Linked DNA regions of Homo sapiens. The protein of the gene in region 1 purifies or fractionates together with the protein of each later gene. This does not show direct contact. Each region holds a gene or a part of one and is shown in the gene's direction. Other genes may lie near its edges.

Evidence for each region.
Region 2: the proteins of SNX8 (region 1) and SLC18A2 purify together in Homo sapiens (co-immunoprecipitation; one large-scale study listed by IntAct). This does not show direct contact.
Region 3: the proteins of SNX8 (region 1) and SNX18 purify together in Homo sapiens (pull-down; one study listed by IntAct). This does not show direct contact.
Region 4: the proteins of SNX8 (region 1) and NPTN purify together in Homo sapiens (co-immunoprecipitation; one large-scale study listed by IntAct). This does not show direct contact.
Region 5: the proteins of SNX8 (region 1) and THUMPD2 fractionate together in Homo sapiens (co-fractionation; one large-scale study listed by BioGRID). This does not show direct contact.

The regions. Positions count from the first base shown.
Region 1 is NC_000007.14:2,303,262-2,309,640, reverse strand, and holds part of SNX8 (sorting nexin-8), read left to right. Parts: intron 1-6,379. UniProt on the Homo sapiens protein: May be involved in several stages of intracellular trafficking. May play a role in intracellular protein transport from early endosomes to the trans-Golgi network.
Region 2 is NC_000010.11:117,245,620-117,251,998, forward strand, and holds part of SLC18A2 (synaptic vesicular amine transporter), read left to right. Parts: intron 1-6,379. UniProt on the Homo sapiens protein: Electrogenic antiporter that exchanges one cationic monoamine with two intravesicular protons across the membrane of secretory and synaptic vesicles.
Region 3 is NC_000005.10:54,522,481-54,528,859, forward strand, and holds part of SNX18 (sorting nexin-18), read left to right. Parts: intron 1-6,379.
Region 4 is NC_000015.10:73,594,519-73,600,897, reverse strand, and holds part of NPTN (neuroplastin isoform b precursor), read left to right. Parts: intron 1-3,528; coding exon 3,529-3,876; intron 3,877-6,379. UniProt on the Homo sapiens protein: Probable homophilic and heterophilic cell adhesion molecule involved in long term potentiation at hippocampal excitatory synapses through activation of p38MAPK. May also regulate neurite outgrowth by activating the FGFR1 signaling pathway.
Region 5 is NC_000002.12:39,760,725-39,767,103, reverse strand, and holds part of THUMPD2 (U6 snRNA (guanine-N(2))-methyltransferase THUMPD2), read left to right. Parts: intron 1-994; coding exon 995-1,047; intron 1,048-5,685; coding exon 5,686-5,773; intron 5,774-6,379. UniProt on the Homo sapiens protein: Catalytic subunit of the THUMPD2-TRM112 methyltransferase complex, that specifically mediates the S-adenosyl-L-methionine-dependent N(2)-methylation of guanosine nucleotides, most probably at position 72 (m2G72), in the U6snRNA of the major spliceosome.

The DNA.
Region 1 (6,379 bases):
TCTTGCCTCAGCCTCCTGAGTAGCTGGGATTACAGGCATGCGTCACCACACCTGGCTAATTTTGTATTTTCAGTAGAGACGGGGTTTCTCCATGTTGGTCAGGCTGGTCTCGAACTCCCAACCTCAGGTGATCTGCCCACCTTGGCCTCCCAAAGCACTGGGATTACAGGCGTGAGCCACCGCGCCCGGCTGGTTCTGGTGATTCTTGTGCCTCAGCCTCCCCAGTAGCTGGGATTACAGGCGTGTGCCACCACACCTGGCTAATTTTTGTATTTTTAGTAGAGACGAAGTTTCGCCATGTTGGCCAGGAAGGATGATCTCAAACTCCTGACCTCATGTGATCCACTTGCTTTGGCCTCCCAAAGTGCTGGGATTACAGGGGTGATCCACCCCACTGGGCCTATTTATACATTTTGAGCAGGGTGTGGTGGCTCACACCTGTAATCCTAACACTTTGGGAGGTTAAGGCAGGAGGATCACTTCAGGCCAGGAGTTTGAGGCCAGCCTGGGCAATAGAGTGAGACCCCATCCCTATTTAAAAAAAAGATTTGTGTCTGGGCCTGGTGGTTCACGCCTGTAATCCCAGCACTTTGGGAGGCCGAGGTGGGCGGATCACCTGAGGTCAGGAATTCAAGACCAGCCTGGCCAACATGGTGAAACCCCGTCTGTACAAAAATCCAATAATTAGCTGGGCATAATGGCGAGTGCCTGTAATCCCAGCTACTCGGGAGGCTGAGGTGGGAGAATTGCGTTAACCTGGGAGGCAGAGGTTGTAGAGGTTGTAGTGAGCCGAGATGGTGCCGCGCTGCAGCCTGGTTGACAGAACAAGACTCCAGCTCAAAAAAAAAAAAAAAAAAAAATTTGTTCATTTTATGGTGATTAAATTATGCCCCACAGTATTGTTTGCATTAGGGACAAAACCTTCTGCCCCATTTCGCTCCCTTCCATGACCCTTTTTTTTTTTTTTTTTTTTTTGAGACAGAGTCTCACTCTGTTGCCCAGGCTGGAGTGCAGTGGTGCCATCTAGCCTCACTGCAACCTCCATCTCCTAGGTTCAAGTGACTCCTGCCTCAGTCTCCCCCGTAGTTGGGATTACAGGCGTGTGCCACCATGCCCAGCTAATTTTTGTATTTTTAGTAGAGTCGGGGTTTTACCATGTTGACCAGGCTGGTCTCGAACTCCTGACTTCAGGTGATCCGCCCGCTGCAGCCTCCCAAAGTGCTGGGATTACAGGTGTGAGCCACCGTGACTGGCCATGACACATATTTTGGTAGTAAACTCCTGATGAGCAAACTTATTTTTATTTTTTTTACAAGTTTATTTTGTTTATATAGTTTTGTTACTTTTTTCTTTTTTTAATTCTGGCTCTCTCCAGAAAACAGAAACCTATTTTTCTTTAACCACAGTATCTAGAATACTATCTGCTATGTAGCAGAGTCTCAAATATTTGAATAGAATTACATTTTTATAAATTTTTGTATTATATTTCTTATGTGATAAGACTTGACAACACTGCAAATATGTTTTGTTACTGGTCTTTAAACTTGCTCATCCTCTCTCTCTCTCTGTCTCTCTCTCACACACACACACACGCACACATACACAATTTGCAAGGTAAAACGTGTCAATTTGAAGAAAGAGGAACTAACTGAATCACTGTTATGTAGAACAGATTTTGCCAGAATTTGTGGTTAGCAAGAAAGTGATGTGTTCCGGGTAGGGGAATTCTGTTTTGGTATTATTTTGTCTTTCCTGAGAAAAGCATCACAAAAAGAGATGTTTGCCCATCCTGTTTGCTGGGGTAGTGGGAAGAGACCGGGGGTGATGGTGGTGCTGGCTGGACGTGGGTGGTTTCACAGGACCTGCTGTGTCTGAGAGGAGCCATGCGGTGATTAGAAGCTTGGAGGCTGCAGGTAGGAGGCACAGAGCCCGAGAGTGCATGGAGAGCCTGGCTGTCGGTCTCCAGCATTGTCACTGTCACCTTTTTTTTTTTTTTTTTTTTTTTTGGAGACAAAGTTTTTGCTCTTGTTGCCCAGGCTGGAGTGCAATGGTGCGATCTCGGCACACTGCACCCTCCGCCTCCCGGGTTCAAGCGAGTCTTCTGCCTCAGCCTCCCGAGTAGCTGGGATTACACGTGTCCACCACCGCACCTGGCTAATTTTTGTATTTTTAGTAGAGATGGGGTTTCACCATGTTGGCCAGGCTGGTCTCGAACTTGGAACCTCAGTGATCCCCCCGCCTTGGCTTCCCAAAGTGCTGGGATTACAGGCGTGAGCCACTGCACCTGGTCCATTGTCATCCTCTGAGAAACTGGAGCGCGGCCACGCTCTGCATATTTCTACTATAGAATCACCAAAAAAAAAAAAATCACATAACCAGACTTAAAGGGCAGAAGTGCTTTGTGAGAAGTGTTTTTGGGAAAATATTGGCATTAAAATATCAGGTAGGGTCCCTTTTGGGAGGACTGAGGAGGGGTGTGTGTTCAGCTCCGGGAGGATCTGGTCTGCCCTTCCTGCTGTTTTCTGTTGACTGGGTGGGAGGAGGCACTTTGCTGTTTCTGTTGTGTGTAGCAGGGGTTTAATGGGGGTCTTTTTAGCTCCCTATAAGCATTTTGAAGTTTGTGTGTTATGGAAATCTGAAGTGAAATTACACAAAGTTTGATTAACCCCAGGAAGTACTGTAGGGGCCGGAGAAACTCAGGTTAGGTAATATCTTTCAAGAAGCCCAGTTACGTTATTTTCCAGGAATCTTCCAAAACCTGATTTGTGCGGGTGTCCACCAGGAGCCTGATGAGTGAGTTGTCATCAGACCCAGTAATGCGCTGTTGTTGTGTGAATTGGTGCTTTCAGAAAATTTTGTTATACAAGTGATACAACCACAATCGCAAAAATTTCATAGACAAATCACCTGTAGTTCCACCCCTTTTAACAGCCGTTGCATTTTAATATATTTCCTTTTTTCCTGTGCATTGCTTTGTATGTAGTTATCATCATAGTGAATATGCGTCTTTATAGTTAGTTCCTTTCACTTGACATTTTTCTACACTGCTAGTTTTCGTAATTTTCTACCTAGTGTCTGTATAATAGTGCATTAAGGAATATAAAGTTGTGCTTCGAAAGTGCTAATATGATAAAATTTCAGTTAAAAAAAATTTCAGTTAGAGATATTCTTGCCACATGTTTTCCAGAAAATGATTTGTTAAATGGAATCCATATTAAAATTTGTCCCGGAGGCTGGGCACGGTGGCTCACGCCTGTAATCCCAGCACTTTGGGAGGCTGAGGTGGCTGGATTACAGCCTGGCCAACATGGTGAAACCCCGTCTCTACTAAAAAAAAATACAAAAATTAGCCAGGCTTGGTGGCATGCGCCTGTAATCCCAGCTACTCGGGAGCCTGAGGAAGGAGAATTGCTCGAGGTTGCAGTGAGCTGAGATCGCGCCACTGCACTCCAGCCTGGGCGACAGAACAAGACTGTCTCAAAAACAAAAAACAAACAAAAAAATGACTTGTCCCGGGTTGGGCACAGTGGCTCATGCCTGTAATCCCAATGCTTTGGGAGACCCTACAGAGCCTGATAAGGGATAAGACTGAATGAAAATCGAGGAAGATGCCGTACCAATTAGGCTGGTAGTTCCCTCTGGCGGGAAGAAGGCACCCAGATCTGTCAGGGATGCAACCAGAAGGAGCGTTTCCAGGGTGCCGCTGTCTTTATTTTTTATTTTGTAGAGACAGGGACTCACTACGTTGCTGAGGCTGTTCTTGAACTCCTGGGCTCAAGCAGTTCTCCTGCTTCGGCCTCCCAAAGTGCTGGGATTACTGGTGTGAGCCACCGTGCCTAGTCTGGCTGTCTTTAATTCTTGGCCTGGATGGTGGTTACACGTGTTTGGTAAATAATTTTGTTCGAGTGTTCATAGAAGTTTTATAGTCCTTTCTGTGCATGTGTAAAGTATTTAATAATACAAAATAATACAATACAGGCCGGGCATGGTGGCTCACGCCTGTAATCCCAGCACTTAGGGAGGCCGAGGCAGGCGGATCACCTGAGGTCAGGAGTTCGAGACCAGCATGACCAACATGGTGAAACCTCCTCTCTAATAAAAGTATAAACATTAGCCAGGTGTGGTGGCGGGTGCCTGTAATCCCAGCTACTTGGGAGGCTGAGACAGGAGAATCACTTGAACCCAGGAGGCAGAGGTTGCAGTGAGCTGAGATTGCACCACTGCACTCAAGCCTGGGCAACAGAGCAAGACTTTATCTCAAAAACAAACAAACAAACAAAAATACAAAATGTTGGGGGAAAACCTGAGGTTCCTAAGATAATTTTGTAGGACTATCTGGACTGACTGCCTTGGTATTCATGCCCCAAGTCCCGTTGGATTTACCCAGAGGGAGGTGCCTTTAGGGTGAAATCCGTTTTCTTGCCTCAGTGTCTGCTCCTAACAGAGGGCACTGCGGTTGATCAGCAGAAGAGCTCCCCTGCCTCCAGCTGTTTCTGAGGCCTGAGTGCTGCTGGCTCAGCCCGGTGCTCTGTTGAGTCCAGCTGTTTCGGTGACCCACCGGCAGCACAGCAGGAAGGAGCACCCAGACCCTCCGGCGTCTGCAGGAACAGCAAGGCTTGTCTGGGAACCTCACTCTCAGCCAAAAGCCAAAAGCAGCTCTCTGGCCAAAGCTGTCAAGGAGAGTCAGATGATATTCATTACTGGGCACAGTTCATTATCTTCAGGACCGAAATTTCACCTCCCAGCTCCTGAGAAATTCCAGTCCAGGCTGGGGGTGGACCTGTCTTTCAAGAACCGGCCACTTAGTGCCCGTGTTTTGCACCAAAAGGAGATTTGAAATTGCATTTTCAGCTCTTCAGAGTCTGGGGAGTGTCTCTGTGTGTGCAGTTTCTTATCTCAGGACGGCATGTGCACGGTTAGCCTTCCTTCCTTGGCTAGATAGGAAAGGAGGGACACTCCTGGAAGCTTCTGCGAAGTTTAAAGTGACCCTGTGTTATGTGCAAATGGGCGTGCTTCCCTCCAAGGTGGGCTACTCAGTGAGGGGACCGTATTCCCATCTGCCCCTGTCCTTGGGGAGATGGAATTTTTTTTTTTTTTGAGATGGAGTCTCGCTCTGTCGCCCAGGCTGGAGTACAGTGGGGCAATCTCCGCTCGCTGCAAGCTCCGCCTCCCGGGTTCACGCCATTCTCCTGCCTCAGCCTCCCGAGTAGCTGGGACTACAGGCGCCCGCCACCACGCCTGGCTAATTTTTTGTATTTTTAGTGGAGATGGGGTTTCACCCTGTTAGCCAGGATGGTCTCTATCTCCTGACCTCGTGATCTGCCCACCTTGGCCTCCCAAAGTGCTGGGATTCCAGGCGTGAGCTGCCGTGCCCGGCCGGGGAGATGGATTTATGTGTAGTCGGTCCTTCTTTGCAGAGCAGGGGTGGGAGAATGAGTCCCACTGATCCCCAACTCTCTTTTTTTTTTTTTTTTGAGACGGAGTCTCGCTCTGTCGTCCAGGCTGGAGTGCAGTGGCACAGTCTCGGCTCACTGCAAGCTCCGCCTCCTGGATTCATGCCATTCTCCTGCCTCAGCCTCCCGAGTAGCTGGGACTACAGGCGCCCGCCACCACGCCTGGCTAATTTTTTTGTATTTTTTTTTTTTAAGTTTTTATTTTTTTTTATTTTTTATTTATTATTATTATTTTTTTAATTGATCATTCTTGTGTTTCTCGCAGAGGGGGATTTGGCAGGGTCATAGGACAATAGTGGAGGGAAGGTCGGCAGATAAACACGTGAACAAAGGTCTCTGGTTTTCCTAGGCAGAGGACCCTGCGGCCTTCCACAGTGTTTGTGTCCCTGGGTACTTGAGATTAGGGAGTGGTGATGACTCTTAACGAGCATGCTGCCTTCAGGATCTGTTTAACAAAGCATATCTTGCACCGCCCTTAATCCATTTAACCCTGAGTGGACACAGCACATGTTTCAGAGAGCACAGGGTTGGTGGTAAGGTCACAGATCAACAGGATCCCAAGGCAGAAGAATTTTTCTTAGTACAGAACAAAATGAAAAGTCTCCCATGTCTACTTCTTTCTACACAGACACGGCAACCATCCGATTTCTCAATCTTTTCCCCACCTTTCCCGCCCTTCTATTCCACAAAACCGCCATTGTCATCCTGGCCTGTTCTCAATGAGCTGTTGAGTACACCTCCCAGACGGGGTGGTGGCCGGGCAGAGGGGCTCCTCACTTCCCAGTAGGGGCGGCCGGGCAGAGGCGCCCCTCACCTCCCAGACGGGGCGGCTGGCTGGGCGGGGGGCTGACCCCTCCACCTCCCTCCCGGACGGGGCGGCTGGCCGGGCGGGGGGCTGACCCCCCCACCTCCCTCCCGGACGGGGC
Region 2 (6,379 bases), on another chromosome or scaffold:
CCACATTCAAACATTATGAAACACTTCAAGGTGGCAGCAGAGCATTAAATCAACCAAGCTCTGAGAGCAGAGCCCTGTGCGACTCTAGGGTTAGGGGCACCGAGAGGTGAGGAAGCCTGGGGTGGTGGCTGGGGCTCAAGGAGGGGATGGCAGATCTGGCCTTCCGCCAGCACAAGCTGCCTTGGACACATGGAGCTTGAGTCGGACAGGAGCACATTCTCAACATCTGCAGTTGAATTTTCTGGATGGAAGGGTGCCATTGAATTGATTTCAACAATCTCAAGCCATGTCCAGCCCTCTAGTCTGTGCAGAGCAATATTCTAAGGCTGCTACATAAAACATGCTAAGCAAATTAACCCAGCGAAGGGCTGACTGTGAGCCCATTAAGAAGGTGACATTCAGTGACTCCTCTGTTCTCAGGAGAAAAACCAAACCGACCTCAGTAGTTGCAGGATTGTTTTCTTTCCTTTTTTCAAGACTAAGAATGCTTCTTAAAATGCATCTGGTATAATTACAGAAAATAGCTCAGGGTTTTGTATTCTGAGAAAGCAAACAGCTCAAATATTGTATGTGAAAATTGAGGACATTATCGTAATAATACCTTGCCAATCACTTGGGTGGAACGTTACTAGCCGTACAGTGTAATACTTAGAAATTCGGCTGAAATGATGTGAGTACTCCAATCTTCCAAACGCAAATGGCAAATGAAAAGCTTTTTTAAAAATCCCATTCTTATTTTTAATGCTTTGCTTATGCCATGGGGAAGAGGCTTGTTTAAAACCAGTGAGCTCTTTCCCCTGTTAAATACTCCAACGGCTTTGAGGCTGTAGCCACACCAGGCTCATGTTTGGGACTTCAAAAACATTATCTTCCATTTTGTGACTTGTGAAATTTAGTCTATTCTCATGGTGAGTAATCCACTTTAGAAATTATCTAGAGCAAAATTGTAATCCCCAACTGTTTTGTCCAGCTACCGAGCAAATTTGAAAATGATTTTCTAGTGCTGCCTGGTAATATGGAAGGACAAACAAATTTTTTTTTCTTTTTTTTTGAGATAGAGTCTTGCTCTGTCACCCAGGCTGGAGTGCAGCAGTGTGATCTTGGCTCACTGCAACCTCCACCTCCTGGGTTCAAGCAATTCACATGTCTCAGTCTCCTCAGTAGCTGGGATTACAGGCGTGCACCACTATGCCTGGCTATTTTTTGTATTTTTTGGTAGAGACGAGGTTTCACCATGTTGGCCAAGCTGGTGTCGAACTCCTGACCTCAGGTGATCTGCCCACCTCGGCCTCCCAAAGTGCTGGGATTACAGGCGTGAGCCACCGCCCTCAGCGAGCAAATAAATTTTCATATTGTGATCCTGATTTGTAATTTGTCTCATAATTTCCAAGCCCAGTAGATATGAATTTGGGGACTGGGCAGCTCTTCTGGACACTCCAAGATTCTGCTTCCCACCGCAGTTCAGATGGATTCAGAGAAGGGACAAATGTGCATTCCATTTGCCTTTAATTGTCTTCAAGGAGTTAACTTGTGAGCCATTGCAAACAGTCTTTTGATGTAAACTGTGCCAATCACATCCTCCATGAGCAAGATGTATGACTCAAGTCTTCAGTGTTGTAAACAAATGTGTTTAAAGGCTTTTTAAAATTGGTTAATATGTTTCTGATTAAAGAGTAGTTAAAAATATGGAGCATCAGAGCTTGCAGAGACTTTTCCTGAAAGCTTTTGGGCCAGTCCTAGCATTTTATAGGCAAAGGAGTTTGCAGTTCAGGAGGAGAAAGCATTTACCACAACAGTGGCAGGACTGTAGCCACATGTTCCGACTGTCCCATTTCAAGCTTTGTTCTTCCCCGCTTCCTGTTCTTCCCACCTGCTTACAATTATACAGCTTGTACCTTTAGCTACTAGAAATAAAGAATGCAGCTCAAAATCTGTCTTTCTTGCACTGACTTGGGCTCTTCCTGGTTGTACCAGGCAGAACTGCTGGAGACCCAGTGAGTTGCTGATTTTGCTACTTTTAATCAATGAGCAGAGAGTTTAGAAAAGATCAGCCTGATTCCTGTGGACATGGAACCTCCCTGGTCCCTGAAATATTCAGTCTTTTTCCAGTCCCTGATGTGAACTGGTCCAGCCTCGTGCATCCCTAAAGATGTGTGGGGAAAGCTTCCTGTAGTCAGGCTGGGCAGAGCTATTCTTTTCCAAAGCTGCTTGTTTTAACTGAAGTGGGACCCACTCTGAATCGAGACATTCTACACCACACCACACCATAACTGGAATCCTCTATTCACAGTCGTGATGGTGCCATGTGTGTGGCTTTTGTGGGTAGGAGTCACAAAATGTAGGCCGCCTGTTTATTTATTTATTTATTTAGACAGGGTCTTGCTCTATTGCCCAGGCTGGAGTGCAGTGGGGCTATCTCGGCTCACTGCAACCTCTACCTCCCAGGTTCAAGCAATTCTCCTGCCTCAGCCTCCTGAGTAGCTGAGACTACATGCCACCATGCCTGGCTAATTTTTTTTGTATTTTAGTAGAGATGGGGTTTCAGCATTTGGCCAGGCTGATCTCGAACTCCTGACCTCAAGTGATCCTCCTGCCTCAGCCTCTCAAAGTGCTGGGATTACAGGCGTGAGCCACCATGCCCGGCCCTGTCTGTTTTTTTTAAATATTCGATAAGTTCTCACACCAAACCCTGAAAATATAGAGTAACAATTCTTGGGTTCATTTAACTGCTAATAGGATGCACATTCTTCCTGTTTCATTTGTTATTCAGATCCTGTATTTCTGCTGAAAATATATGACCAGTTAGGTGGCAAAAACCTTTGATTTGGGTGTGTGTAGTGATGACCTGGCCAATAGCACACTTTCCAAGAAAGCCTGAGGTTGCTGGATTGACCTGATTTCCATGTTGGAACCTCTTGCCTCCTATTTTATAATTTTGGCTGAACTATTCATTTCATGATTGCAGTTGTGTGCAGGTGGTACCAGAAATTATACTAGTGATACTTGGTCATCATTTGGTCTAAGAAGCAAATTTTAGATATATATGTCCATAAGAGGAAAGTTCCAGGCACATGAACAATGGGACAACACGTTTACATTTCTCTCTTCCCTCAGTCAGGTAACGATATGGCATTGTGGTCTTGCTTAGCATAAGGTTGAAATAATAGTTGCATCTTCAGAACCAAAAGATATTCCACACCAAACGACTGGCTTGGGAAAGAGTTAACTTCATTGCTGGGGACCGTTTCCCTTGCTTCCTTCTTAGCTTGTCATTGTCTCAGTGATCTGCTTTTTATCAAGCCAGCGTCAATGGCTTAATTTATTTCCATAGTTACTTAGTATATTTGAAAGCAGTTCTTTTTGCTTGCAAATCTTAGCTAACATCTGAACGACAAGGAGGAAGCCACAGGGCATGAAATCTCTACGAAATCTACCATGGTTTTATTTTATTTTTTTGCTAGCTTCAGCCAGTGGGTCTGAAGTGGGCTGTGTAGGAACAAGCAGTGACCTTTTCAGCTTCTCTATGGACAGGGAAACCGGCTGTTCTGAGAAGAGATCTCCCATCCTGCATGTGGTTAGGATGGTAGGGAGGGCTTGATGAGTCTTTGCTTCTGAAATCAGAGGAAACTGGCTGTGGAATTAGAACATTCCTAGGAGAAGCAAAAGCTCTGTTAAGCTATGTGTCAGAGAACAGGGCTCACGCCCAGGAAAGTGAGAAGTCCGTGCCCCCTGGAATTCTCTGGTAGCTGAAAAAGACAAGCAGAACCTAAGAATTTTGACAAGCGGAATCGAAGAATTTTATTTACTAAATGATTGACAAACCTCCTACTATATCCAGGCAAATTGAAAATATCATTCCATTTACTGACATTCATTTACTGCACACCTTTTAGGAGTGTGTAGGGATCACTGGAAGGGAGCTGTTGTCTCTCGTTGCATCTGGTGATAGTTTGCACCCTTCGGGGCTCTGTAGTCTGTATGCTTCTTGTAATTTACCACGGTAGAGGAAACTGTGGTTTTAGCAATCATGAGAAGAGAGCTTCCATTAGTCTCTATGGCAAGGATAAGCTAATTATTAACACTAGAGAAGTATTGTCTTCATTGACCATTTAGGGACAGATGGGGTTTCTCCAATGACTAAGTATATATAATTAACATAACTTTTATTGTTTTACATGTTTTTCTAGGGATTCATTATGTGATTTTTAGTCTTACTCAAATTGGATTAACTGCTTCGTGATGCTCTGTAGAGGATGACCGTGGGCCAGTATGACATTTGGCTAAAGGTTTGCTGAATCAGATCTGGCTCTGCTTAGCAATACTTTAATTGAGAAGGCCCTGAATTGAGACAAGGGGGGCAACTCAGACACAGATTGTGACTAATGTCAGTTGAGTTTCTGTCTGTTTAGGAGATACTGTGGGGAAGCAGAAAGGGTTTGGTCCTTCTGCCCACCACTCAATGACTAGGGACGCTGGACGACTCTCCTTCTATGGTGGGTGCCCGAGGGGCCAGAAGAGTTTGAGAACGGAGACCCAGGAGCTTCCCAGGGAGTCTTCTTTGCCTTGAAGCCGAGCTCTGGGGAAAAATGATGCCCAGCGCTTACCACTGAGCAGCCCATGCAGTGGCTTGGCCTGTGTTGAAAGTGCAGGCACAGGTGTGTCCGGTACTGAGGAGGCGGCAACATGAGCCTGGTTGTATCTGAAGCCATTGGCTTGCTCTGCAGCCATGGGTGAGCCACTCTGTCTCTGAACCTCAGCTTTCTCATCTAAGGTGAGGGTTTGGACTGGCTAGCCCTTGAGTTTCCTTCTAGCTGTGATATTCGTTTATTCCATACGTGCATTGTTAAAATCCCAAAGAAAATTAAAAAGAAAAACAGTAGCTGCAGTGTTTCTAAAGAAAACACAGTACCTCAAATGGTAAAAAGAACCCTCTGTAGGCACAAACGCTGTGGTTTTCAGTGAAACTGTGCACTCTCCATCCCATGTGCTCCAGCGTCCCCACCCAGGTGCACATCAGCAGGGCCTAGCACATGTTAACACACTCAGGGTATGCCCGTAGCCTTGAATTTGGGGCAAGTAATTCACCTCCCCGAGCCTCAGTGTTGATCCTCTGAAAAATGGATAAAACCAGCTACCCTCCCTTGGAATCTCAGGCCACCCAGCATGCTGGTTCCCTGCCTACAGTCGTGGGAATGTCTGAGTCTTCAGGTAGGGAGGGACCTCAGTGGCTTCCAGCCCACCACAGCTGTGCCCTGATGGGTTACCTGGAATACTGGCTGGACTGAACAGTGGGCACAGTATGGCTGGTGGTTTGGGGGCCACAGACAAGGGTTGCCACATTTTATTGAGTTTTGTCCTGAAACCACCCAGTGTTTCTGCCTACAGTCTGGGAAAGGGCCACAGATGTCTTATTTGCCTTCAGGGATGTCCCTGCAGCCTGAAGGGTTCCATATTAGAGCCTTATAAATAGCCAAAATGAAGAACTGGTGAAACAAGAGTGAAGCCCCTAATTCCAATAGCTTTGATACGTATTGGTACTTCAACAACTAGATTTTCCAAATATATATTGAACAGAGGGAGAAGCCTGTGTTTATTCCAGGACAGCCCGGAAGATTGTCATATGCCCGTTCTTTCATGGGACAAACTGTAGTTGCTGAAAATAAATTGCCTGTGAGTTCTCCTCTCTGAGCCTCCTGGACGTTTCCTGATTCAGTATCCTGCAGTGCCGTGTGAGCCCCCGGTGTTGGGTTTCTTTTGTCCACATGAATAAGGGGTACAGAGAATCAGCTCTGGGTGGGCTGAGACAGAAGAAGCTGTCACCCGATGGCCATCTGAACTGCAGGTCAGAATCCTGGCATCTTCTCTGGTTTACCCAATTTGCTTGGGGCCCCACTTTGTGAATTACAAGCTCATCTCTGTTCACAGCAGGGGAATCTTTGCATGGTTTGTGGGAGGGGACTGACTGTCTGGGAATCTGTCATGCTTGTGAGTTACTCTCTGTATTTTTGGTATTTGGTTTCTGGATACAGGTGAAGCAGTTAAAAAATATTTGAATATGGTCAAGAGAACTTTTGGAAAGATTCTATTTAAAGCTATATATGCCGTTTGGGTACTGGCGGAGGTGGTAAAATTTACAAGGAAAAGCCATGTGGGAATGGCCCAGGCGAAATTAGTCTGATGACATCTGATAAGTAATGACAGATATCATGCCTCAGTTTCCTCATCTGTAACATAGGGAGGTGAAATAGGGCCCTTATTAAATCATGACTAAATCTGGTGGGTGTAAATGCTTGGAGAACTGAGTGTAAACTTTAAATGAAGGCGCTATGATTATTTTTTATTTATTTATTTACTTTTGAGACAGAATCTCGCTCTGTCA
Region 3 (6,379 bases), on another chromosome or scaffold:
TATTTTAATATAGTTTCCTGATAGCTTTATTTTTACTTGGTCATCTCATTGCACCTCCTCCTTCCCATATAGGCTTAATTAATAAAAACTGGGAAGGGGGAAGCAAGTCCTGCTAGATTCTTCTTTGCTGAATTTCCCAAGCACTCAACCTGAGTGACATTTCAGTAGCGTGAGCATCTCTTGCAGTGTGCCTTTATGTCCCATTCAGAAAACACATTGGTTACGGGATGGATGTCTGAGGCCATCCTGGTGAGAACCCAGCTGCAAAATGAGGGTGGAAAACTCAAATACTCTTAAATGTTGGTGGGCTGAAATTTTCCTGACTATACTAAATACTGAACCCATTCTTTAAACTAATAATGGTTTTAGTGTACATACTTTCTGCAGAAGTGAAGAAAGCGATATACTTCCTTCAGCCAAAAGAGAATTCTGGAATTTTGATTTTTTTTCATCAACGGATGGAGTCTAACTATTTAGGTTAATGGAGTTGAGCGAAGAAAGACGGTAGTTTGCTGTAGTCTGCGGTACATTAGATGGGAATTCAGAATCTATTGGAATTTTATTTGTGTTTTGCTTTGACCTAATAGGAGTCCTTTAAGTTCTTTGTTCATAGGTAGCTCATCAATCCCTGACTAGGCAGTGTGCAGATGTTTGTCACTGACATGTAACCCCTGTGGTCTTGATTTTTTTTTTCTTAAGTGATAGCATTTTATCTTCTCCCTCCTTATCATGCCTGTCTGCAGTATACCTTTATAGTGTTGATGTTGAGGAGTTTGGGTAGTACTGAGGAATATATTTTATTATTAGTTTCTTGGCATATTCAGTTTTGTTTCCAAAGATATGATCAATCTCTAATATTTAATAAAGCTAAATCTAGGTGGCAGCAAGTTGAGGTTTAAAAGATTTAGGTTTACCTCTTGCGACTATTGCTAAAAGGAAGACTGTAAAAGATTATGAGAAATACTGGTTTCATCCTTGTTTAGGAATTTGGACTAAATAAAAATGGCTAGAGGGAGTTCCTTTAAGTGAAATGTCTTTCTTCTAGAGAAAAGGTGTAAAATAGTGTTAAATTGATTTGTCGATTTGGGCTGTGTGAAGCAGGGAGGCAGGACTAGATAAGTAAATAGGCAGTCCTGTTTTCTGTACTCTTAAATATACAGACTCTACTTCATCGCTCTCTAAATGTTCCAGATGGAGCCTTTTTTCAATAAAAGCCCCAGGACCTCAGGAATGGTATACCAGTAGTGGGCCTGTCAGTCTTGCTGGGTAGAATTTCACCATTGTGCTTCCTTTTACCACTAGTAGAGTTGGCCTGATGTCCTTCAGACATTAATTAAAGATAGCTGGAGTCCCAGCAGGGCACACAAGGTAAGGCTGGGCCACACGGAGACCCTTCCCTGTCTGCTCCCCATTCTCCTGTAGCTAAAAATAGCCCTGAAAGGGTGGTGCCAGGAATACAGAGAAAAGCTCTAAGAAGTTGGGGCTGTTTGCAAATTCATCCTTATTTTTGAAACCTCTGGGCTAGAAATTGAGGCTGTTCATTCTTTTTGTTTTCACTCCATCTTTAGTTGAACCCATTTCTCCTCTCCCCTGCATTTACCCCCAGCTGTTCTCTAAAAAGACCTCATGTCTCTAAAAAGAGAACAGGTCTGGGGCTTACCCTTTGCCCCAGTTTGTGTTTTCTTAGTGAAAATAAGGTGACCGTTGGTGCTTTCGAAATACACGACTCAGTTCCTTGGTTAAAATATAAATGTGACTGCCCAAGGACAGTCTTGGGCACGAAACTGGGTGTGGGCACCGCTCATACCACACCGTCAGGGGTTTCTCAGACTTCTTTTTTGAGCCACATAGCCTTCAGAGTCATGCCGACCACAGTGGGACCGAAGGGAGGCAGAGGACCTGCACTCCCACCCTCCTCCCAGTAACTCAGGGAGCCTATGAGGTTTCCTTGTTCAGCAATGTTGTCCTGTCTGGCCATCTTAGGACTTCTAAGCATAATGCCAGAACCCAAACAAGTGAGAAGTTCTGTGATTCACTTACAAACACTTCCCTTGAACTATTTAATATGTTCCTTCTCTTTGGGCTGAATAAAAAACTATTATTGTATTACCCCATGTATTTTTAAATCAAAGTTTAAATATCAAGTTAGATTTAATTTGCCATATATTTTTGAAGCTCTGTATCATTAACTAAAGGATTATAAAGTGGCAGAGTAATGCTGAGCTCTGTTTGACAAGATTATATCCGGAAGGCAGACGTGTATCATGTCTCATATTTATACAACACAGACTAGAATCTGGCCGCTCTGCCGGTGTCTGCAGGAGGGCTGGGTAGGCCTCTGGTCTTAAGTGAGTTATTTGACTAGCTACAGAGACAGGTCAGCCAGCCTCGGCAGTTCCTTGTGCCAGGATTCTGAGAGCCTGGTGGATGGGCCAGTCTGCCCCAGGAGTTGCACCAAGGGGTGGGACTGAGCTGGGTCTGCTGAGGAAGCTGTGCCAGTGAAGGGGCAGCATGCCAAGCCAAGAAGCCGTGGGTGCAGAGCCTCATCGCAGTGGGAGCTGGCCTGTCGGGACCAGCATGGGCTCTGGAGGGCCAGTGTGTGGGCATGGAGGAGTTTTGGACAAGCTATTTTAACCTGCGTAACGCTCACTTATCTTTGGCCAAGTGGGGGCACTTCCTCACGAGGTCAGCATGAGAATTAAATGTTATAGTTCATAGTAGCTAGTCACTAAATGTTTATTTTTGAAAAATAGATGGGTGAATTTAAAAGGAGATGACAACCAGGCATGGTGGCACATGGCTTTAATACCAGCTACTTGAGAGGCTGAGGGAGGAGAATCACTTGAGCCCAAGAGTTCAAATCCAGCCAGAGCAACACAGTGAGACCTTGTCTCTTTAAAAAAAAAAAAAAAATTAAGGGCGCTCTCCTTTGAAGGACAATTCCAGTAATCTTATCATCCCTCCTGGCAACCTATTGCCACCAGAATTGTAGGCAAAAGTACAAAAGCTCAAGGAGTCTTCAGTCTAGCAATTAAATATCTGCTTTAATCAGTTCGCCCTGTATTGCACACCGGAAGTAATGGCAACTGGGATAAATGTAGATGTTGTTTGGAGTCAATCGTTTGTTGTTGTTCACATTGAAGAGTGTATGTAAACTGTCTCCTCCTGGCTCCCCTCTAACCCAAATCACGTGTTCTGGTGCAGATCACTTAATGTTTCTGAGCTTCAGTTTCCTCATCTGTAAAAGTGAGGTTCATTATTTCCTAGGTACTATTTTGTTAGTTGACTTTTTTAAAAAAATAAGAGTAGTCTTAAGTATCCAGGAAACTTTTAGACATTGTTTCAGGCTGATTTTAATAGTGTTCTCTGTCTACTTATGTGACTGTTTTACGGGAGCATGAAAAGCCCTTATCAGTTGATGTGAAAGAACATTTATGCACGTTTAGTTCAGATCAGCAATCACGCATTGCAGGCTTACCTCACTAGGAACTTCGAATGTAAAAGTGATTAATACCTGGCCTGCTGCTGCCTGGTGAGGGTTCCCGGGTGTTCTGAAGCTGTGGTATGGTAGACAGCTGGAGCGACTTCTCTCTGACCCAAATTAATAGGACTACCAAAGAGATAAATTATGACAGTTTTTTAAAGATGGAGTCTTGCTCTGTCACCTAGGCTGCAGTGCAGTGATGCGATCTCGGCTCACTGCAACCTCTGCCTCGCGAGTTCAAATGATTCTCCTGCCTCAGCCGCCCGAGTAACTGGGATTACAGGCATGTGCCACCATGCTTGGCTAACTTTTTTATTTTTTTTAGTAGAGACGGGGTTTCACTATATTGGCCAGGCTGGTCTTGAACTCCTGACCTCAAGCAATCTACCCACCTTGGCCTTCCAAAGTGCTGGGATTACAGGTGTGAGCCACCGTGCCCAGCCTCTGATATTGATCTTATAGCTTGATTAAACTTTAATTTGAATGAGTTTTAGTTCACTTGTCATTTCTGTACCTTTTCTTATGACTTATCTGTCACTGTGATTTGACTTTCCTCTTCTGCTAAATAAATTGTTATTTAGCAGGTAAGGGGACAGTGAAGGAAGGGGAGATAAAATCATTAGATTTATTCATAGGACCCTCTAAAAGATAAACTAGATTTTATTCAACAAATACGTATGTACCCATCATCGTCCAGGCACTATTCAAGATGCTAGTGTTGCATCAGTGGCCAAAACAAAGATCCCCACCCTTGTGGAGCTTGCAGTCTAGCAGGGTGGAGACACTCAATGAAAAACAAACACAGGAGGTAAGTTTTGATGTATGTTGGAGTTTGGTATGTGCTAGGAGAAAACAGTAGAGCAGGGAAAGAGGGCATGGGAGGCAGGATGAAGTACTAGTAAGAGTGCTCAAAGTAGGTCTCATTGAGAAAGTGAGATTTAAGCAGAGACCTGAATCACTCTGGAGTCAGGAGAGTCGTCCAAGCAGGTATCTCGGGGGAGAGCTTTTCAGGCAGAGGGTTTAGCTAAAGTAAGGCCCTGGGGTGGACATGTGCCAGGCAGGTTGAGGAACAGCAAGGCCAGGTGGTTGAAGTTAAGAGGATCCTAGGAGATGAGGTCATGGAAAGTCAGATTTGCAAGGCTTTGCAGGTCACTGTTAGGACTTGGAATGAAAGCCCGAGTCAGATGGAAGCAATTACAGGATTTTGAGCCAAGGTATGACATCCAACTGGACATATTAACAGACTTAGTCCAGAGCAATGAGAATAGAATGGCGTGTGGCAGTCAAAGGTGGATGGAAGCAGGGAGCTAGTAGGAAATACTCCAGTAATCCAGGTGAGAGATGCTGGTGGCCTGGACCAGAGTGGAGACAACAGAGGTGGTGGTCGGGGAGCCGGGGGGGGGGGTCCCCCTCCAGCTATATTTTGGAGGTAGAATCAACAGGTTTTCCTGAGAGATGGGATTGTGAAGGATGTGACATGCAAGAGAAAGGGGAGTCATCAAGGGTGACTGTAATTTTGGCCTGTTTGGCCTGGCCTACAATAAGAATTGTCAGAACAGGGGTGGGGAGCAGCAATCAGGAATTGAGTTTTCTCCTTTTAGGTAGATCAGGCTCATGCATTCTGCTCCATGTCTCCCCACCCCAACACAAGCACTTTCTAGCTTCAGGTCTAGTCCCCTTCCTTGGAGTATCCCCCTTGGATTGTAGTCCTTTTGTGAATAATTGTCTGTGCGGTGCTCAGTTATTAGTGTGTGGGTTATGTTTTTATGTTCCTGTGTTGTATAGCTGTTAACTACTGTTTTATACATGCATAGCAAGTACTTAATGAATGCTTGCTGAATTAATGAAGTAGGCACTCAGTAGCTACTTGGTTGATCTTGAAATAGATTTATAAGATGTTTTTGTTTTTCCATTTATATGATGATGGATAACAGTCTAAAGTGTACAGGAAATAAAGATAGAATCTAGATGTATTTTATGGATGAAGTCATTAACATGTGAGTGATTTAAAAGTCTTAGAGTTTTGTGTTTATGAAATGACTTTACATAATTCATTGGGGAGGGGAGGGGAAGTTTGAAAATGCTTAAAGTGCCAGAGAATTAATATTGTATACCTCATGATTTCACTTTATATTGATTCTTGGTGTTTAAACTTACGCATGCATACACGCACATACACACACACACACACACACACACACATTTTCCTCATTAGTAAGTTTTAGTTATAACATGTTTACTGGGGTCTCGTTTGCTTAATTCAGAGCACAAGATCCAGAGAATACATTCACCTTGTTGCTTGACTTGGATACACACGGAGCACTGAGCTCATGTGTAGAGCAGTAGGTACTTGCCCTCATGGAAGGCCCACTCAGTTCCTTGAGAGAGGTAGAATGTGTGCACAGAGGACTGAAATAAAAGGTAGATTTAACTTAGTACTGCGAATAAGACAGTGCATGGGAGTCCAGGTGATAGAGAGGAATTGTCAGTTTGTGTTAGAGGCTTGAGTGGGCAGCATTTGAATTCCCCCTTTGAAACATGGTCACAGTGTGACTTTTGGAGGAGTGTAGGTGGAAAGCGCACTCCTGATCTTGAAATGCTTTAGGATAGGTTTGATAAGCATACAGTAATTGATAAGCAAGGTACCCGGTGCTCAGGTCAGTGAAGGGAACTGAAGTGAGGAGCTGTCACTGTACCGTATGACACACAGTCGTGGACATGCACCATGATGTGAAGTAGGACAGAAGGAGGAGTAATTATGGGCAGTGGATAGGAAGGTTCAGAGGTGGCTTCTGCCAGTCTCAGTCTAAGAAGAGTTTTGAAAACAAGTGGAAGTTTGCCAAGCCGGCAGAGTCGGGGAAGGGCAGTCTGGGCCGAACCATATGGGATCCGTCT
Region 4 (6,379 bases), on another chromosome or scaffold:
GGCAGTCTTGCCTCAGAATCATCTTATCTTTTCACACTGTTCACCCTCCCCCCAGTTGCTTTAAGAACTCTTTGACCCAGTGCTTCTCTATCTCCATTCTCTAGTAAGATTATAATTTTATGGAGTTAGTGATCATAGTATGTTGCACAATTGGTCAAAGGTTCCTGGCTTTTTGTGGCCAGGAATTATTATTAATTAATTTATTAATTAAACTAAGTGGTGACAAAGCATATCTTTAACTTAAGTAACTACAAAAACCTTTTCAGGCCAGTGAGACACATTGACCACAGTTGTGGTAAGTGTTAAGAGACCATGCTTTCACTTTGGATTCCAGGCCAGACTCTTTGTTATTAGCTTGTGACCGTGGGCAAAATATTTAACTTTTTTGGACGTTAGTTTCCACATCTTTAAGAAAAATTATAATGGCACTTATCATAATGAATAAATGAATTTTGAATATGATAATGAATAAAGTGCTTAGCACATTGCCTAAACATATAATGCATACTTAGAAAATGTCACTGTTACTCTATATGTCTAATAATGGTAATAACAATAATGGCCTTCAAAGACCATTGTTGGCATTTTAAAGGGTTTTTTATCTTGTGTTTTAAAAGTTCATTTAAATATACATCCTATAATTTACTAATGCAAAGAACATTTTTGTCTTGGTCCCATTTTCCTTGATACAGGTAGAAAATTGAACTGACTCAGATCAGCATTCCTTACTCTTAGCAGGAAGTCTTGCCCAGGGTGGCATGATCTGGCTGAGTGACTCGCCCAGTTGTGTGCAGTGGGAATCATAGTCAGACTGTTTCTCAGCTACCTGTGACTTGTGTGTTATTAGGACTTGGGGTTACAGTGGAATTGGATGGATTCTTGGTGAAAGGATACTTTCAGGCATCTTTTTTACATTAGCATTGTCAACAGATTGATAAACAGGCTTAAGTCTAAGGCTGCTTTGAAGTACAATACAGAAGAAGGGAAAAAGTACAAAAGAAATCCACTAACAGTTCTAGGGCATAATCGAGTACATAATTACCGCATTTGAGAGGCTGTAACTCCCCAAGTTCACAGATAATGTGATAAGACCATTTGTGATTACCACTTATGGTCAAGAATATGATTAAAACAGAATAATACTTTTACTGCATTTCAGGGATTTACTGATATCCAGTTTTCTCTGGTGATTGAGCCAGTAGTAAAATAAATAAAACCAACTTCCTTTACTTCCCCTCCCTCCCTCCCTTCCTTTTCTTTCTTTCTTTCTTTCTTTTTTTTTTTTTGACGGAGTCTCGCTCTGTCGCCCAGGGCAGAGTACAGTGGCACGATCTTGGCTCACTGCAACCTCCGCCTCCTGGGTTCAAGTGATTCTTCTGTCTCAGCCTCCCGAGTACCTGGGACTACAGGTGAGCACCACCATGCCCAACTAATTTTTGTGTTTATAGTAGAGACGGGGTTTCACCATACTGGCCAGGCTGGTCTTGAACTCCTGACCTCATGATCCTCCCGCCTCAGCCTCCCAAAGTGCTGGAATTACAGGTGTGAACCATCACGCCCGGCCCTCCTTTACTTCTTTGTTTATATTAGCTGGCATTGACTTTGACAGGTGGGCAGGTGGTAGTTTGTGAGACCGAGACATGGCTCCTTGGATACCACTTTATTGGGCAGTGAGCTCAGCTCTTCATGCAGGGGCTTGGGGGCTCCTTTCTGTAATTCTAAAGCTTCTCCTGCATCTGAGAATGACATCTGTTGGGCTTCTTGGGGCCTCTGGTAGATATTTCCTTACAAGGAATGCATGCTGGATCTGAAGAGGTAGTTTAAAATGGCATATTAAAGGCAGAACGTTTAGTCTAAGCCTGTTAATCACTGCATTCCTGTGCTCCCCAGAGTCTGAAAATGTCAGGAATTGAAAGACTAGTATGAATTTGGAGGTCTTGGCCTCTACTTGAGTAAGTATAGTACCTCCATTAATGTTCTTAGTCCATGGTGTGGGGTTATCACCAAAGGCAAATACTGCTATGGATGTAAACAGGAATTTTTCCACTTAGTAACCTCCATTTTCAGCTAGCCCTGTTAACATCCTTGGCTTCTGGACTGTAGGAAAACAGTTCCATTTATTTCATCCTTTCCTCTGGAATGTTCTTAATTTGATGTTGGCAGATCCTGACCTCACTCCCTGCTTACTGCACAGGGGCTGGCTTGGCTTATGCAGCAGGCCTCCCAGGGGACGTTTCCAAGCCAATCAGAATGCCCTCTTTTAGTGTCTCTCTTTATACCTTCGGATACTGTCTGAATCAGTAGAAATGCTGAATGAACCCTAGGTGGGGTGGAAGGGTAAGAGAGAGTATGCTTGCACTCTGATTTTGTTTCCTATGGACCTAACTCCAAGTTTTTAAACTAAGCCTGGATTTTTTTTTTTTTTAACTCTTTCTGCCATTTCCACCTTGTCTTATGGAAGTGTAACCTCAAGCAAATTATGGGCAATTAGAGGTAGGCATCAACTTTAGTTCCTGGGCAGTTCCTAAGAGTGTTGGTTGAGGCCTGGCTTTCACCCTAGTGTTTAGTTTAATTCATCAGGGTACATTTCTCATTCTTCTGAGCTGGCTTCTAGAAGCCAGGCAATTCAACTGTATGGAGCCTGTCAAATACCATAGCTTTTCAGATTTTTCTAGGTAATGGATCTATGGGGTTATGGAGGGCACAGTCCCTCCATTAGCTGGCAGTGAGTTGGGTTGCTGGTATTGTTGGTCCCACTTCTGAGCTGACCCACAAAGTATTAATATCTCACTGTGGTGTGAAGTACAGACTGTCTTGTTCTCCTGAGGGTCTGCATTCAGGAAGAGGCTGCCTAACGCTAAACAACTGGGTTGTTTGTTTGCCATAGGCCCAGGGAAGAATAGGAGGTGGAGAAAGTCTAATCGAACCCAGGATAGAATCCTGTGTGAGAGAGAAATTTGCTACTCTTTCAGTTGAAATTTGAACTCTGAATCCCAAGAGAAGGCACCAGTAGGTCATTTAATACTTCTTGTTGAGGCTTGCAAAAGACACTGCATTTCTAACAAAGCGTTTGCCCATCCAAAAGAGAGATCCTGATTTGGCATATAAAACTACTGCCTCTTCTGGTTATCTTTCATCACTTGCCTGAGTTTAAAAAGGTAATAAATGGTTTGTGTTCTAAGGAAAGAGGCTCTTCCCAAGACCTGAGGCTTTCTCATTCCTACCAGCTGGGCCCATTGCTAAAATGCTTTCCAGTGGGCTTGCTTCTGCCTGGCCAGCACCTGGGCTGCCCCAGCTTGTAATTAGCCTGCCTTTGCTTCATAAGCTTCCCAGGGTGTGGTTCTTCTTCTAAAAGCTTGTATGAATTGCTGTACTGTCTCTTTATAGTTTAAAAATGAATCCTTTTTTGTTCTTTGCAACTCATTTGCTTTTTTCTTTTCTTTTCTTTAAATTACTATTAACACCTGTTGATTCTTTTTTTTTTTTCTGATTGGCCTGTCACTGCATTCCTGCTCCCCCTCCCTCTAGCTGGGTTTGTCAAGTCGCCCATGTCAGAAACTAAGCTCACGGGGGACGCCTTTGAGCTGTACTGTGACGTGGTCGGGAGCCCCACGCCAGAGATCCAGTGGTGGTACGCAGAAGTCAACCGGGCAGAGTCTTTCAGACAGCTGTGGGACGGTGCTCGGAAGCGCCGTGTCACCGTAAACACCGCCTACGGGTCAAACGGCGTGAGTGTGCTGAGAATAACCCGGCTCACCTTGGAGGACTCTGGGACTTACGAGTGCAGGGCCAGCAACGACCCCAAGAGGAATGACTTGAGGCAAAACCCCTCCATAACATGGATTCGAGCCCAGGCCACCATAAGCGTCCTTCAGAGTGAGTCCAGCACCCTACAGTAGTAGTACTGTAGTCATTAGAGGTGGCCCAATGACCCTTCCCTTCTGCATCCTTTCCCTCTTCCCCAGTATGATCACTCACCCCACCCCTTGTCTTCGTTTTTTTTTCAATCCCATGACCCTTCTGGTTGTAGTGTATGAAAACATCTGTGGCAACTTTTTTTCTTCTTTTCTTTGCCGTTCTCTCTGCCTCCCTTATCCCCCAACCCTTCTCTGTGTCTTTCTTCTCAGGAACAAAGAACTTGAGGAAATCCGTGACTGTCCAAAATCATCTGTGTTGGGAAGAGTTGGGGAGGGAGAACTGGGAAGCTTAAATTAAAACTCATAAAACCAGGCAGTCCAAGGAGGGTAGTGTTGAAATGGTTTTCCCTCCCCTTTGATTTTGTAGTAGGTTTCCTGCTATACTTTTGCTGATTTCTTCTCTGGTGCCTTTCTATTTTTGTTTCTCTCCCCAGTCTAACTACTTTTTATTTCTTCTGTTCTTCTGTTTGAAGCTCTCTAAGTAGCTGCCTTCACCTCTATGGTTTTAAGTTTGTGTCTGCCCAGCCTCTTCCTTTAACTGTGACTTGGTGTCATCTTGTTGTGATGGGAATGTTGCCATGGGTGCAGTGTGGTGGTGTGTTTTGGTTGTTGGGTGGCATGTAAGCTTGGATATTTTCATAGTTCCAGCTCTTTTTCTTTTCTAAAACCGTGGCATGTGCTTCTCTGATAACAGCCCTCTACTGCAGCAGTGTACTCCTCACTGGGCCTGCTAATTAGTCTCCTCTTTAAAAGCAGCAGCCTGGGACTTCCTTCTTATGTTTTGCTGTTAGGAGCCAGGTGACACTAAGCTGCAAATTATTATTTTTTTAGCCCATCACACTGTTTGGAAGTCAGAGTTGCAGTTGATTCCTGTTCACGGTTTGACTCTGATGAGTAGCTGTTGGCACAGTGTACCTTATCCCAGAGCATGGGAACTCCAGACATAGTGTGGGGACCACTCACACTGGCCTTTTCTTTGTGTCTTGAAAAAAGAGGAAACTAACTTCCAACCTGGTTTCTCATAGTGATGGGGTGAGCTGACCAGCTGGCTCAGAATCCTCTCCTTGTAGCAGGTATGCGTGAGACATATGACACCGGGACTTTTGTGGCCACTTCTCTCTCTTTCTTGAAAGTGACTTGCTACCTTATGTTGAGAAGCAGAGAGAGGGAGAAGCCACCACAGAACCAACGTTCCTGGCCAAGAAGAGTTCTGGCCCCACATCAAACCTGGTTATAATTGAGGGGACATTCACTTTTGGAAAGATCCTCTGGGTTTTTCACCTTCTCTTTGAGGACACAATGAGAGATCTATAGCCAGTTCCAGCTTAAAGAGCTGATTGATCTAGAGAAAGTAAGAATAGTAAAATCTTACTTTGATGAGGAATTTGGTAATAACATAAAGTAGTAAGACATGGGCCTTGAGTCTATATACTTAGATGGAAAATAGCAAATTAGTGTCTGTTCTTTGTAGCCACTTGAAGATCCTATGGGTAAAAAAAGAGTCCTTTGTAGGGCAGTGGTAGGAGAGGCTGCTGCAGTTGGCACTGTTGAATCAAAGAACCTGCTTCTGGAAAGAGGAAAAGAAAACCTTGTCTATGTGAAAATGGGGAACATTAACCCAGTGATTTTTTTTTTAACAATATTTTTACCCTGCACGCCTCCTTCTCCTGCCCCCTTGCTCCTTTCCTTATAAAAGCAGAATTACCTACATGGCCACAAAGGTCTGTGGAAGTTTATAGGTATGGACTGGGCTGGGCATTTGCACTTATACTTCCAAGAGCCTGACTCATAGCTAGAATGGCCATGCCAAGGGGCTAGAAAAAGATGAGGCATTGGGGTACCTACCTACCAATCCCGAGAATACATAGCATTCCCCAGTTTACTTAGAATTGTCTGCATGTGGTTGAATCAAATCCAAATCCTGGCTAGACTCTCTTCAGACTTCCCCATCAGTCAGTTAACCCAAGTTAGCTGTTTTGGAGAGCCAGGAGGTTGTTGCTGCTGCTGCTGCTTTTTTTTTTTTTTTTTTAAAACACCCTGGATCCAACTCTAATTGGACTGTTTTATGATCTCAGCGTCCCAAAAGACATTGCTCTATGGGGACATCAGGTGTTCTATCTAAGAATGACCTCCTGGTAGTACTTTCCCCAAAGCTCATTGAGTATGTAAGGCAAGAAGAGAAGTGTGCCCAGTTTTTAGGTATCTCTCTGGCCATAGCATGTTCTTTATATATGCATGATGGCTGGGGTAAGGGTCTCCTATCCACTGCTTTTAAATAGACATCAGTGGCAGGTAAACACATTTGAACTTCTCCTAAATGTTCATCTCTCTTGGACTTTGGGCAGCGCTTGGCCACAAAAATAAAAGCCCCACCTTCATCCTGGTGCAGAATGCAGTTGAGGCACCATGGCCAAGGAACTTGGTGTAGCACTGTTTTTCATATACAGCAATCACAGGAGGCA
Region 5 (6,379 bases), on another chromosome or scaffold:
TGACTAAAAAATTGACAGAGGAATCAAATCTCAACAAATTTCCTTCTGCAAAATTGATAGGAAAACATTTATAGTGGGAGAGGCTATTCTTAATAACATTTGATATATGAACATGTCGTATCTTTAGAATAAATTGTCAATAGAAAACAATTCTAATAAATAGTTTTGCTAAAATGCATAATATGTAAAATTGGGAAGTTTAGCTGTGATGTATCAGTTAATCAGGTAATTAAATTGACCAAATGGAATCACTCCAGGTAAGTCTTTTCTTGATGAAATTGATCAATATTGGAATAATTCTGATTAAGCTGTTAATATTTAAAGTTATCTTGGGGTGCGAGTATCAGGGACCAGATATTCTTGAGGTTCATAACAGCATTTAAAATATTCTGTAAACCTTATCAGGCTACAAAAGTAAGATTCTAGCTTTTAAAATTTATGTTGGCTACTAATTATAATGTGGGGCGCTTAAATACTCTTCATGGCCTAACAGAAGAAAGAAAATAAAGAAAGACAGAAACTTATAGAGAAAACAGCACCCTTGCTGCCATATATTTGGCCTAAACAAAGTTTTCTGTTACCCTGAAAGTATTTGCAGCCTCTGATAGTCCTGTGTGGCCTCGCATCCTATTTGAGGTTAAAATGAGGGTGGATTTAGAAAATCTTCTCAACGCAAAATACTGAAAAGCGTGGTCCACTTATGATAATTCCTAGAATCTCTAGGAAGAAAGTTGGTTTTGAGTTCTTTGTAACATGACTCTCCTATATAATAAATTGACCTCAGAATTTTTCTATGAAATGTACTTAAAATTTAGTTTCCTTCTGCTTAAGAAAAAAAAAGATTATAGAACATTTTTCTAGATATGATGAATAAGGCCTTGGAGTTTCTTTTTAAAACATAGATCATGTAAGTTTAAAATGGAAATTTCAAATTGTCAGTAATTTGGTAATGAAGTTTCTTGTTCCATTCTAACTTCTGTGTTTGTTCTTTCAGATCTTTATACATCTAAATGACATTTACTCTGTGGTGGGGATTCCTGTGTTCAGGTAGATATTCTAAGCTTCCGGTTTGTCCCATAAGACAGATGGTTAAATTAAGAACTTGTGTTTTTTATTTACAGCATGAATGAAGCATTCATATAACAGAGAAGGCTAAAGGCAAAGCATTTGAATTCTTTGCTTAAGACAATAAAGTATTTTCACGGAACTTAGTGGATATGATTTGAACTGACCAGTTAGAGCTGGGAAATATTTGGTCATGGTAATCTACTGATTACATGATTAATACTGAAAATTATATCTAGTTCTATTATTAAATGGTTTTCACAGCCCTATACCTATACCTAAAAGGCTTCTAGGCTGCCCTACTCCAGTGCCTTTAATTTGAACAGTTTTGCCTATATGGTTTTTTTAAATTCTTTGACAATTTTAAAGACAGAAAGGGTGGAGAAAACGAAAAGATGGACATATTTTAGCAATTATATTAAGTATAATTATTGATGATCACCAAGACAAAAGTAGGAAACACTAGCAAAACAAGCAAAATATAAAATGTATATTTTTTTAAATTTATAAAGTAGTTAATTTTTTTTTTAATACTTTGACCCCCAAAAAGTGAGCCTAAGTATCTAAAAAATTTACTTAGGGACCGGGCGCGGTGGCTCACACCTGTAATCCCAGCACTTTGGGACGCCGAGGCAGGCAGATCACGAGGTCAGAAGTTCAAGACCAGCCTGACCAACATGGTGAAGTCCCGTCTCTACCAAAAATACAAAAATTAACTGGGTATGGTAGCAGGCACCTGTAATTCCAGCTACTCAGGAGGCTGAGGCAGGAGAATCACTTGAACCCAGGAGGCGGAGGTGGCCATGAGCCAGAATCATGCCATTGCACTCCAGCGTGGGTGACAGAGTGAGACTCTGTCTCAAAAAAACAAAAAAATTTAGGAAGAGTATCTCACCCGTAGCAGTGCTGAGTGTGGTATTAATTAGATTCTTACCACCAAATAAAATAACTCATTTTTAAATTATTATATATAAAAATGCTTAATTTTGTGCTTCTTATTTAACTAATATAACTTTATATTAATGTTTTTTAAAAGGTATTTGATTATTTAAAATTATTTTAATGCTTGCTAGAAACATTCAAGACGTCATGCCATGGCATTTCAAATAATAATTGATAGTGTACCTTGAAGTTTACAAATAAAAGATATGTATCTGAAAATTAAGACTGAGACCTTGAATGAGCACTAGTTGAAAATGAGGTTACAACAGATGCTCTGTGTTTAGTCAGTTTGACTACCTCAGTGTAGGAAGGAAGCAGTCTCAGTGATGAGTGTTGGCTAAAAAGAACAATTTACCGGGACATGAAAAGGGAGACATGAAGACTTGCACAACAGATAGCACTGGACAAGAGAAGTGACAGTGGATAACAGAAACTGCAACCTGGTGACCCTAACAACAGAAGAAAGTCTGAAATGATGAAACAAAGTAGAGAGCACCATGAAGTTAAAGGATCACATAAAAATTTGTCCTAAGTTCCTAAAGACATTGTTCATATTTGAGTTTTACTTTCTTTAAAGGAAAAAACCATTTGGATATCAATAGCCCCATGAAGCATTAACTGTATATAGCTGTTGCCACTCTGTACACATCACCTACTACAGTATAGCATAGCAGATAAGAACTGTGGACTTGAATTCTATCTTCTCCACAAATTATTATAACTCTGCAAGTTTGGGCAAGTTATCATATTTCTCTGCTATAAAATCAGGAAAATAATAGTACCTACTTTATAGCTTCGTCCTTGGGATTAAATGAGATAACCCACGTGAAAATCTTTCCTGCTGTTTCTAGGATACAGTAAGCATTGAATAAATTTCAACTTTTGAAACAGTTCAATCCAGTGTTAGCACAGATCTGTGATAAATGCTTGATTAGAGTTAGGAAAGAGAAACTAACTCTAATTACGGACCTGTGAGCAGAAAGATAAAGGATTGTCCCTAAGAGGAGACTTGAAAGCAATAAGAAAGTGTATGCCGCATGGAGAAGAGAAGGAAAGGGTATTACAGGCAAGGAATCTCTGTGCAAAGGCACAAGGTATAAGGAAGCTTGATTTACATGGAGGATGGCAGGTAGTTTCAGTGTAGTTGGGACATAGAGAAAGTGGTAGAAAATTAGAAACAAGCCATGAAGTGCCTTGTTTAAGTATGTATAAGGAAGTTTGATTTACATGGGGGATGGCAGGTAGTTTCAGTATAAATGGGACATAGAGAAAGTGGTAGAAAATTAGAAACAAGCCATGAAGTGCCTTGTAAATATGTTAAACAGCTTGGATGTTATCCTTAAAGCAATAAGAATTTGAAGCAGAAGAGTGATGTGATCAGATTTGTGATTTCAAAAAAATTACCAAGAAAATTATATTTTTAAATGAAAGGGAAATAAAAAGAGAGAAGGAGAGGATTTAAACTCTTGGAGGTAACAAAAAGGCCATGAAATCAAAAAATAGTTAAGGAGTCTAGAATAATTTCAGATTTCTGATTTGAACAATTAGTAAATACTGGTATTAGTCACTGAGATACAAAATGTAGGGAAAGAAAACAGTGTATTCAGTGAAAAATGTCCAAGTAGATATTTGAAGTTACAGATCTAGAGTTCAGGTGACAAGTGTAGACTGAAGAGGTAGAGTATGGTACCCAATATATGGATAGTACGTGGCACAAGAAAATGAAGAAATGTATCAATATATGAAATCCAGGATAGTGTATTCAGTTTATACCTGTTGACTTTGCACTACTTATCTTCCACATAAAAATGTTCAAGCACATATTTGAAGATAAAGATCTGGGGTTCAGGTAACAAGTCTAGGCTAGAGATATAGATTAGGACGTCTTTGTCTTGGTGGTACAAGGTGTACAAGAGAAAAAAAAATGCACACATGCAGAGAAGAGGATCAAAAACCACATTTATTTTTGAACCGTGTACATTAGCTAGGTTCTCTGAAAGTAAAGCATTATTTTTATTTTCAAGGAGTTTATTTCTGAACGTGCCTTCTTCTGAATAATTTTGTTATACTGATATAATGGGGCCCTTTTGTTGAAGTAATGAGATAATTTTGCCCAGGTTTAAGCAAAATGTGAACATTCACTTTTGTCAAATATTAATAGAATTATGTCCCACAAAAACTTCTATTAGCAGAAATATATACATAGTTTTTGAAACTTTGAAAGGTTCCATATAAATTCCTGCTGCTTAGAAGAGCATTTTTTCATATATATGGACAAAGCTGGTTTCCCATACTGCGTCTCCCTTTTTGGTATCTAGAATGCAAACTCTGTTTTATAGTTTTGGCATCTAGAATGCAAACTGTGTTTTATAACTTTGGTATCTAGAGTGCAAACTGTTTTATAGCAAGATAATTGCTAAGCTTACCCCGTAGAAGCAAAATTCACTGGCCAAAATATTTTATAGTGTTTCTACCTGCCAGTTTACATCCCTCATTCCAAATGTATATATACAGTACTGTTTACAATGTGAATTGTTGTTTCTTGAAAAAACTTTATTAAAAAGCCAAACTCCCATGGGTTTGCCATGTAGAACTTCCTCATTATAATAGCAAGTATACAATTACACTGTTTTATTTTAAAGGGGTATATCATTTAGTTCTAAGATTTTAAGAGGCTTGCAATAAATACAAAAACAGGATAAGTTAAAGTCAAAGAAAGATGAGAGGCAAAATGGTGAAAGAAAGAAATGTTTAATATTCACATACCTAGAATTCTGTTGAACAACCTTAAGGAGGGTTTGAAGAAAATCATGGCTTTCCGTAATGTTCGTAGAAGACCTCTTTTGCTGGTTTTGGAAGAAGCCAACCCCAAGACAAACCCACACAAATTCTTGACATCATGTCTTCGTACCTTACCAACAAATTGTAGAAGTGAACTAGAAAAGCTTGGAAAGTTGTAATTTCCAAGGAGATTCTGCTTGTTCATTGCATTAGAAAGACAGAAATAATAGATGACATTTTGAAAATTTCTATCAAATCTGGAAACATTGATGTGATAGTGGCATTGATGAGGTGGAGGATAAAGTGTGAACTGATGCTTTTTGGAGACCAGTGAACTCATTTGGGAGATGTCTGCTTTGGCCCATCATCCAGTAAATTATTTTAGACAATGCAATGTCATGCTTCATTTCATCTTTTGGGAAAGATGCAAATAACCAAAAAACAAACCTACAAAAGGGACTTTTTATAGAAAACAGATTTTAAGGGTTAGCATCCCTTCAGTTCTACTTCCCATACTACATTTATATCACAAAATAGTACATTCCCCTTCATGACTTCAAATAGCAAAAAAAGGTCTACTCTGTATGGGAAGACAGGGAAGTATAAGAAAGATTTTCCTCATGTGTAATTACATTTTTATACATTAAATACGTGAGAGTGTAAATTTCAGTTGTCTAAAAATTTACCTTTCTGAAATTCAACACTGGCTGGGTAGACAAGGTGCCCATTAGAGAAGCAATTTTTGTAATAAGACTGAAACATTGTCTAACTTAGGGAATACTTTAGTGTATGTTGGATGAATATGTTTAAATGATTCTCAGATTTGGACAGGTAAATCATTTTTATATCTTGTTGTTCAATGTGTAATAATATATAATCAGATTCTATCCTTTGTAGGGTTTCCCTAGCCAGCAGAGCTTACATCAAGACAGCTGGACTGCGATCTACAATAGCGTGGGCAATGGCATCTCTGGCTGACATTAAGGTAAGAAAAATGTTTTCCTTCCTGTTAATAGCAAGGTTCTTTTCATAATTAACTTATACAGTCTCTTATTGATGGATATTTATGTTACTTGCTTTTTCTTTTCTTGACGCTTTTTCTTTAACTTCTTTTCTTTTTGCCATTGTACTTACAAACTGCTGCAGTAATGCTTTTATATATTATTGAACTTCTGAGAGTATTTTGGCTCTGAAAAAGCTGAGTCAAAAGTTAGCTACATTTCATTATTTCTAATGTTTTGTGTCACAGTTAGAAAATGTGGCCTGTAAAACCTCCTATTCTTAAAGTTTTTGTCTGTGACCAAGATCTTGGTCAATTTTTGTAAATGTTCTATGGACATAAGATGACTTTATCTTCTAGTGAAGAAATGTTCTCCATTATTTTTACTTACTGTGTGTTTCACTGCTCCATTTTGAAAGAAGTTTTTGAAATCTCATATTGTATTTTTTTAAGTTTTTGCATTTTTATGAGTTGTTGAATTATTCAGCTGTCATGTGGCTTGGTATATACATGTTCATGACTATCAATACATCATTGTGAAGTGTGCCTTTTTGTTACTTAAGTCCTCTTTATCTTGGTTAAGTTTAAATT